2 separate regions of the Homo sapiens genome follow, and region 1 is linked to region 2. Evidence: fine-mapped expression QTL. A gene starts in region 2. The other region holds a variant in brackets. All regions are shown on one strand. Distances are from middle to middle.

Region 1 (4,396 bases), 21 kb before region 2:
TTTTTAATTCTCTTCAGAGCCACACTGTCTTCCAATAATTCCCTCTTTCTTCCTATAGTTTCAGTGCTTGACTGGCTGTATGTAAAACACAGAAGTGAAACCAACCAGAAAATAATCCAAAGGCCAAATGGCACCTTATGTCAGTCATTCACTGACACTTGTGGAATGGCTCTGTATGTGTTTGCTACTTAAAAATAGCCTCAATCTGATTCCCAGGATTACGATTCTATCAACAAGTAATTGATTCCTGATGGCCAGAATCAAAGCTGGTGAAACTCACTGCCCTCATGAAGAGTTCATTCTAGTGGGGAAAGACATCCAATATGCAAATAAATAAACAAGTGAATGAATGAATGAACCGTGGCAGGAAATGTATCAGTTACATCTCACCACATTTTTGAGCTGTGGTAATGAATCCCCAAATCCCGGTAAGTTACAACTGTAGACACTACTTCTTGCTCACATAATATGAAGGAGGCCACAGGATGACCTTGGCCCAGCCCCAGCAGGCCTTCTTGCTTGCTCCAGAACCCAGTCTGAAGGGGCAGCCCTGTCTGGCCAATGCTGTGCTCACAGCCAAGGGAGAAGCATGTGACAGATGATCTCTCCCATGGGAAGGCTTCTGCTTGATGTGGTGCTCTTCAGTTCACTTGTGTACCTCCTGAATGCCAAAGCAGGGTTCAGGGCCAAGTGCAACAATGGGCTGGGCAACAGAGTTTGCCTTCAGGGAGAAACTGCAAATTCCATGGCAATGGATGGGAAGAAATATTCTTTGCAGGGAAGAGTTGATTGCTGGGAACAATAATCTAAGCAGCCATAAGTTTAAGTGACATAAAGAGAATATATCAGGGAAGGAGGCTAAGGGGAGCCAGGTGTGTGAGTGTCCTGGGGTTAGAGGGGTGCCACAGAGAAACTGACAAACTTACAAGAGGGATGAACAGGTGATGTTCTGATGTTAGGAACGTGATGTATAGTGGAGACTGCTGGCTAGTTACCAAAGACCCATTTCCTCGTCTTCCTGGGTACACAGACTTTTCCTGGCCACTGTTACAGTGAGGTGTGGCCATGTGACTGAGGTCCAGCCCATGGAATGGGAACAGAAGTGATGTGTGCCCTGCCACCAGGAGTCCAAGGACCCCAAGGCCCTAGGGATGGTGGAGCCACAGACAGAAGGAGCCTGGGTCCCCAAATTACCATCCGGCAGAAGGACATCTACTTCGGATCATGAGCGAGTAAGCTGGAGTGCAATGGCGTGATCTCGGCTCACTACAACCTCCGCCTCCCGGGTTCAAGTGATTCTCCTGCCTCAGCCTCCCAAGTAGTTGGGACTAGAGGCGTGCTCCACCACTCCTGGCTAATTTTTGTATTTTTAGTAGACGAAGTTTCACTATGTTGTCCAGGCTGGTCTCGAACTCCTGACCTCAAGTGATCTGTCCATCTCGGCCTCCCAAAGTGCTGGGATCACAGGAATGAGCCACCGCGCCTGGCCAAAAACAGGGATTTTATGGACTTCGGAAACCCACAGGTAGTGACTTCATAGTGATGTTCATGGTGATGTTGACCTAGGTGGACTCTCCTGGGAGAGAGAGACTTCCCAACATGGAGAACGGTGTATATTGGCAAATATGAGTCATGAGGGGCTTCTTCAGGTGTATGGAAGAGGACGGTATATGGGGAAAAAGAATGAAAAAGGAACTGAATCCCTTTGTCTGAAAAGCAAACACAATTAGAGAGGTAATAACTGGAATAACCAACTGAGAGAGTGCTAACAACTTTGAAACCACCAGGCCTTGTACTTGGAGGAATTCCCCAGAATACCCTAGAGGTAGAGGCCCCTTTGGAGAGGGCAGAGTGTAGAGGAGTATGGGTGAAGGGATGAGGGTCTTCCCTTTCTGACCATCAATTCCTCCAGGAAAGCAGCATCAGATTCCACCAGACACTGATGAGTTTCAGAAATACCTGCCATTTCATTCAACAGAATGGCAGACCTGCCACCCTGCCATTTATCTGGATTTGTGTCTTCAAGTCTTCCTGTTTTCTACACGCCTCCCAATTATTTACTGACAAAGGAATGAGTTGATCCTTTGTCCTGTATTGTTTTTCATCTATTACTTCAAACTTGTTTCCTTTTCAACCACAACAGGAAGAACAGGTGCTTCTCAGTTGTAGGTGGCTTAGCTGTCTTTGGCTAATACTAAGAAACCTCAAGCAAGAAGTCTAAATATTAATCATTAATTTACTGAAATCCTCTGTGTTGTGAATGTTGCTCGACTTCAGACACCTCTGAAAAGTATAGAGAAATTTGTCTTCATGTTCTGCATA[CTTAA/A]ACTTTTTATTATGGAAAATTTCAAACATACATGATAGTAGAGAGATTTATATAATGGATTCCCATGTATGTATCACTGGCCACAACAAATACCAACATAAGGCCAACCCTGTTTCATCTGCATCTCCTTCCCTGTTGGATTATTTCAAAGTAATCCCAGATATCATCTCATTTAATCTGCAAAGTTTTAATAGGATACTTCCAAGAGATAGGGGCACCATCTTTTCAAAATATAATTATAATACCAATTAGCACCATTGTTAGAAATTAATAGCAACTCTTCAGTATCATCTAATATCTACTGGGTATTCACCTTTCCCTGGATTGTCTCATGTATTCGTTTTTCCTGTTGTTTTCTTTTAATCAGCATCTAAACGAGGTCTGTGCATTGCATTTGGGTGACATGCCTCTTAAGACTCTCTTAATCTATAATCATTCCAAGTTCCCCCTTTTTTCCTTGGCTGGATGCAAGGAAATCGTTAAATGCCTTGCTAAATATGATGGCTTCATCCTAGTACTAGTTAATACCTAAAGAAAAAATACACATTTGTGGTAAGGCTTTTTACTTAAGACAATGGATATAATTTCACATTTCAAAGTCTCCTTGGTAATTGTGAATTTGGGGCAGATCTGATTAGATTGCTTTTGTTTTAATTTGTATTAGTCTTCAATTCAATTAGTGCAATTTGTTTGCATTAAGCTTTTAAAACCGCCTGTTCAGCTTCTGAGAGCTAACATTTTATATGTCTTAAGCCACCCATCTTTTCACGTGTTAACATCTATGAAATCAGTTTGCATTTTATAATCAATGGTGAGTGATAGTTTAATGTGTAGCATTTTCTTTACTATTAAACAGTGGTGCATCTTACAATCAAAGAGGTCTTAGATTTGATGAAATATACTAGTTTACTTAAACTAGATAATATAAAGGGCCCTTTCTATGGAAGTTTTACTCTTCTTTCTGAACAGTGGGCCTGTACAAGACAGATATGCCGAAGAAGGTAAACAAGTCCAGGTCTGGTCAGGAACATAGGAGCCATTCTGAATCTTCAGAATGGAAATGGTTTAATACAGAATCAGAAGCTTATATGGCTCCTGGAAGGCAGGGACTAAGGCAGGGACTGAGGAAGTTTCTAGAAATCCAGGACTGCAAGAGTCACAGAGAAGCTCCCCTGCCCCCAGTGGTCTCAGCTGCCTGCACGACTGAAGTGGGTGAGTCTCAAGGTGATATCCAGAGGCTGCTGGCAAACCCCACATCTGCCTCCTGCTGATGCTCAAAAGCCTGTCCTGTGCAGCCACCAGAAGGAAGCGGCTTCTCCTCACCTCCCTCCTCCCCAAATCAGGGCACAGGGTCTCTTGGGGCAGAATCTAAGAATCCAGGTCTACTGGCAAAGGAGTGTGGCAAGTGTCGCGTCCAGGCTTTATGCCTCTAAGGACAGGGAGGAACCGAGAAGGGCTGGGATGGTGGCAAGTACCAACAATGTTCAGCCCTTTAGAACACATCAGTGACTCCGTACATTAACTGCAGAGAAGCTTAATCTTTTTCGTCTTACATGAATATAAAAGGAAGTTGTAAGATATGTGTCCTGCTCCCAATGGACTGATTTCTGCCCCCGTGGAATATGTGCACCCACCTCGCCCCTGACATCAGTGGACTTGGGCCTCCAAGGCTAGCCAAAGCCAGGTGGAAGAGTGAGGCCAAAGGAGGAACAGGGCTTGGCAAGGCCAAAACCCTGCCCTGGCCGCCCCGTTGTCCCTGAGGGATTATTTCCACAAATGCATGTGCTTAAGTGCTTCAGTTCTATGGCAGGAGAACAGGACACACCACTACTGATACATAAGGACACGTCACTTATGGGCACTTGGCACTGACTCATATGCTCTGTCATAAGTGCCCTGATGTTCTCCTTTTCATGAACGCTGGTTTGTCTGTTATGTTCTAGGCAGCTCGAGGGGAGGAGCTAGGTCCCTTCTTTCTTAAAGATCTCCCCTCAATGCTGATAGTATCCCTAAAGGCAGAAAGGTGATCCCATAACACTAGAGTTGCCTCTGTTAGAGCAGGGGGAGTGG
Region 2 (4,396 bases):
GTCCCGAACTTCTGACCTCAAGTGATCTGCCCACCTCGGCCTCCCAAAGTGCTGGGATTACAGGTGTGAGCCACCGCGCCTGGCCAATTCTTGATAACACCATAAATTTAAGTTCCTTTTCACTTTTTCCCACAAGATAAATTACAGCTTTACAACATTTTCTCAGAGCCCAACCATGACTAGATTCTACAAAATTAATTTCACTTTTAAACCTCAAATTCCACAAAAATGAGTTTAAAGGAAACTCATTTATATTTACCCCGGAAATCTAAACTCTTGATAATACCACACATTTTAGTTTCTTCTCACTTCTTCCCACAAGATAAATAATTTCAGCTTTACAACATTTTCTCAGAGCCCAACCATGACTACACTGTGCAAAATGAATTAATTTCACTTTTAAATCTCAAATCCCGTAAAAATGAGTTTACTTAAAATGAAACTCACTTGCATTTACCACAGAAATTTAAACTCTTAATTACACCATATACCTTAATTCCTTTTCACTTCTTTCCATAAGATAAATCACAACTTTACAACATTTTCTGAGCCCAACCATGACTAGATTGTGCGAAATTAATTAATTTCACTTTTAAATCTCAAATCCCATAAAAATGAGTTTACTTAAAATGAAACTCACTTGTATTTACCACAGAAATTTAAACTATTCATTACACCATACACTTTAGTTCCTTTTCACTTCGTCCCACAAGATTAATTACAGCTTTACAACATTTTCTCAGAGCCCAAGGCTAGATTGTGCAAAATTAATTAATTTCACTTTCAAATCTCAAATCTCGTAAAATGAGTTTACTTAAAATGAAACTCACTTATATTTACCACAGAAATCTAAACTCTTGATAACATAAGAACAAGAGGCCGTCTGATTTTCTAAAAGACTTTTTTTAGACATTAAAGACATTTTCAAAAGTCGTAAATATTCGCTCCGGAGGCGCAAGGCTTTCACCTGCCATTAATTCATCAGATAAGGCACAGCTCACAATGAGGCGCCACTCCCACCGGGACCACTTTGAGGAACACACAGCAAAACGCTCTGTTTGTTTTAAGAACAATCACTTTCTAAACCTTCCTGCGGGACTCTCAAAGGCAGCCCTTCCTTTGCCGCCAGAACCGCATCCCATCGCCCAGCACTTGCCGCAGGCCGGACAAGTGAGGCCCAAAAGGGCACCCAGCCCACGCCCCGCTTTAGAAAACACCGCGCGGCAAAGCTGCTTGGAAAATCGCTATCTTTTAGTCAACCTGAAGCCAGTTTGCCGCACTCGGGGAGAGCCGGGGAGAGGAGGGAGGGACGCGATCCGCCACCAACCAAATCAGGGCCTTTCCTGTTAACGACCACGCGGCAAGGGGGCCGGGCCCTCGCACGCCTCGACGGCCTCCCCCACTCCAAAGGGACTCCGATTTCGCAGGATCTCCCGCCTCCCGCCTCTGCTCCCAACACCCTACGTTTTTCTCTTCCTCCTCATTTACGTATTTACAATAAAACAGCGAAGCTGCACAGTCTGTCTCTAAATCAAACGCGGTTACCATCAAAGCCTCAGACTCTATGTCTCAACCGCAAAAGGTCTGACAGGAAATCAACTCGGGAGTTTGTCAATTCTTTAAACTCAAAGCTCTGTTAACGAAATCTGGATCCTTCCTCGCTCCCCACCTGCCTCCCCTGACAGGAGAATGACTGTAAAAGGATCCTGTCGTCCCCGAAAGTCAGCACCAAGCACTTCACAAATTGTCAAATCTCAAAAGCTTACACGCGCGGGCACTCCGGAAAGGCTGTGGGGACCACCCAAAGCACCCCCCTCCACACCGCGGCTGAAATTGGAGGCTGCGAAGTCAAGACTCGCTCTTCCCCGCAAAGCAAACCCTCTCTCCTCAGGAGAGCCCCGGCCCCTAAGCCAAATCGTGTATTCCCGTGACGGAAAGTTCAAGGTGAGGAAAAAGTACGACTGGACAGACCTATTTTAGTGACAGAGCCTGTCACGCCGGCCTCCGGAGGTCGCGGTAAAACTGCTCGCAGTAGTCCTGCCTCTCCGATGGGCGACAGCTGTGACCGTTAGGCCACTCGACGCTTCGGAAAGGTCCTGGCACCGGAAACCGGGCCTGGTCACGCGCACGCGAGACCAGTGATGCCCTGACCCCTGAGTGGATCAGAGAGCTCCCGCGACGCCGAATTCCCACACTCGCGGTTGGGGGGGGGGGGGGGGGGGGGGGGGGCGGGACTACCCGCTGACCAATCGGAGTCTGGCCACTGACAGGCGTCACCGTTGATCGGCCAATCCGCGGGTGCTCTCCCAGTCCTTGGGTGAGGGCGGGAATTTGCTAAGGAGATGGCTGTGGGGCGGGGCCGAGGGCGGGAATTTGCTGAGGAGATAGCTGTGGGGCGGGGCCGAGGGCGGGAATTTGCTGAGGAGATGGCTGTGGGGCGGGGCCTCTTACCTCAGGTTTTCCTTCGCAAGACCCGCAGGATTGAAAATGGACGTTAGGCCTTTCAGAGACTCGCGCGCTGAGTGGTTTCTGCGGCTGCGCAGGAGGCTGGCGCGCATGCGCAACCCTTCTAGTGGCGTTGTAGTTAGGGACGTGGTGTCCCCCCTTCGTTGTTGGGGTGTCCGAAGCTTTTTTTTTTTTTTAATGTGATCCCGCCCCTCCCCCGCGCTCTGTGACGCACCAGAGACGTCGTCGTAAACTGGGTTTCCTGGACGCACGCCAGTGATTGACTTGGAATGAGGAGAGGGGCGGGGCCTTAGCAGTTGCCCTGAGCCAGGTCTGGTAGGAAGGGCGAGGGGGGCCAGGGTGGGGGGCGGGCAAGATATTTCCAGTCTCCAGCACCCACAAGTTGGACTGGGGAACTAACGCAGACCTTGAAGGCAGATTTACTGGATTGGACCCCCAGCTCCAACACAGTCCTCCTATGGCCTTAGGCAAGCCAAGTAACCGCTTTGTGCTTCGGTTTCCCCATCTGTAAAATGGGTATAATATGGGGACTACATGAGTTAATGTATGCAAAGCACTTAGAACAGTACCTGGCATAGAATTTTGCTATTGTAATAAAGGCTATGTGACATCATCTAGTGGCATATAGTCTTACATACTTATATCGAGGCTGCTCATCTTGGGAAGGAGACACAGTCTGAGTAATTATCAGAAGCAAAGCAGGCAGATATTTCAAAGTAAAGCTATACATCTTTTCTTGGCCCAGAGAGGAGCTACAAAGAAAGTATACTGGACGTTGGAAATGTATCATTTTTCCTCTCAAATACGAAGCTAGATTAAAGCCCATTATAGATATAGTATATGTTTTTTTTTTGTTTTTGTTTTTGTTTGAGACGGAGTTTTGCTCTTGTTGCCCAGGCTGGAGTGTAGCGGTGTGATCTCGGCTCACTGCAACCTCTGCCTCCTGGGTTCAAGCGATTCTCCTGCCTCAGCCTCCAGAGTAGCTGGGATTACAGGCGTCTGCCACCATGCCCAGCTAATTTTTGTATTTTTAGTAGAGACGGGTTTCACCATGTTGGACAGGCTGGTCTATGTTCTTTTTGCTCCTACTTTTGCCATAACAGACCCTGCCCTTATGTCCTGTTGCCTGTAAAACACTGTTGCGAAGCCCCAAGAAATCAATTACGTAACAGTGAAGAGAGAAACCGGTTGTTTAATTGCAGTCACGTTTATTTGCAGTTTCTATACACACTTTCTAGGTAATCAAACTTTTCTGATACATTTTTTTTGAGAGGGGTTCACAATGAAACTGTCACCATTTTTACTAAAAATAAATACAAGACTTAAAGTGTTGCACAGCTCTAAAATATACAAAGGCTTGGATTGAATGTAAACGTTGAAAACATCTTACAAAAGAAACCATCTTTGCAGCAATTTAAAAAGTTCATATTTACAAATATTACAAAAATACAAAATGGATGCAAGTCCATAAACCATTGTCGTTTCGGCCAGCATGAACTGGTTCTAGTACCAAAATAGTTACACTGTAACCTTCTTCATAGTTTTAAATCTTTATTACCATCTAGTTCTCTACGTGCCACCACTGCAGCAAATGCACTCACTCACTGACCTTTGGCAAGAGCAAACAGCATGTTCTGTTTGCTACAACTAGTCCATGTCCTCTACTTAGCCAAAAACAAATCAAAACAACAACAAAACCAAAGTAGAATTTTTAAAAAATGAAAAAATTTCCCCTACACAACATAGATACGTTGTATAAACATAAAAGAACAAAAAATCGCATCAGTGCAAACAACAGAAGAAAAGTTCGGATTGATGTTCTTCACAATACCTAACGTGTGTACCCTGCTTCAAGACGGCAGTGATGTTAAAGACAGCCCTAAATCTTGGTCTTGTTTGCTATGTAATCAAGCCATGTAGAATATTCCAG

Evidence for each region. PIP is the estimated chance that this variant, and not a neighbour inherited with it, causes the effect.
Region 1: its variant is the best candidate, but not a certain one, in a credible set for the expression of SCML1 in whole blood (TOPMed, PIP 0.89).

What each region holds. Positions count from the first base shown.
Region 1 is chrX:17,756,366-17,760,761 of GRCh38, reverse strand. No RefSeq gene overlaps it. Among named protein-coding and RNA genes, the nearest start is that of SCML1, 21 kb to the right of the region's middle. The variant CTTAA/A (reference allele first, on the strand shown) is at 2,323.
Region 2 is chrX:17,735,256-17,739,651 of GRCh38, reverse strand. It overlaps SCML1 (Scm polycomb group protein like 1), which reads right to left and starts at 2,159. Exons shown (of 8, transcript NM_001037540.3): 1 at 1,972-2,159. NHS (NHS actin remodeling regulator) reads right to left here. Exons shown (of 9, transcript NM_001291867.2): 9 at 3,658-4,396.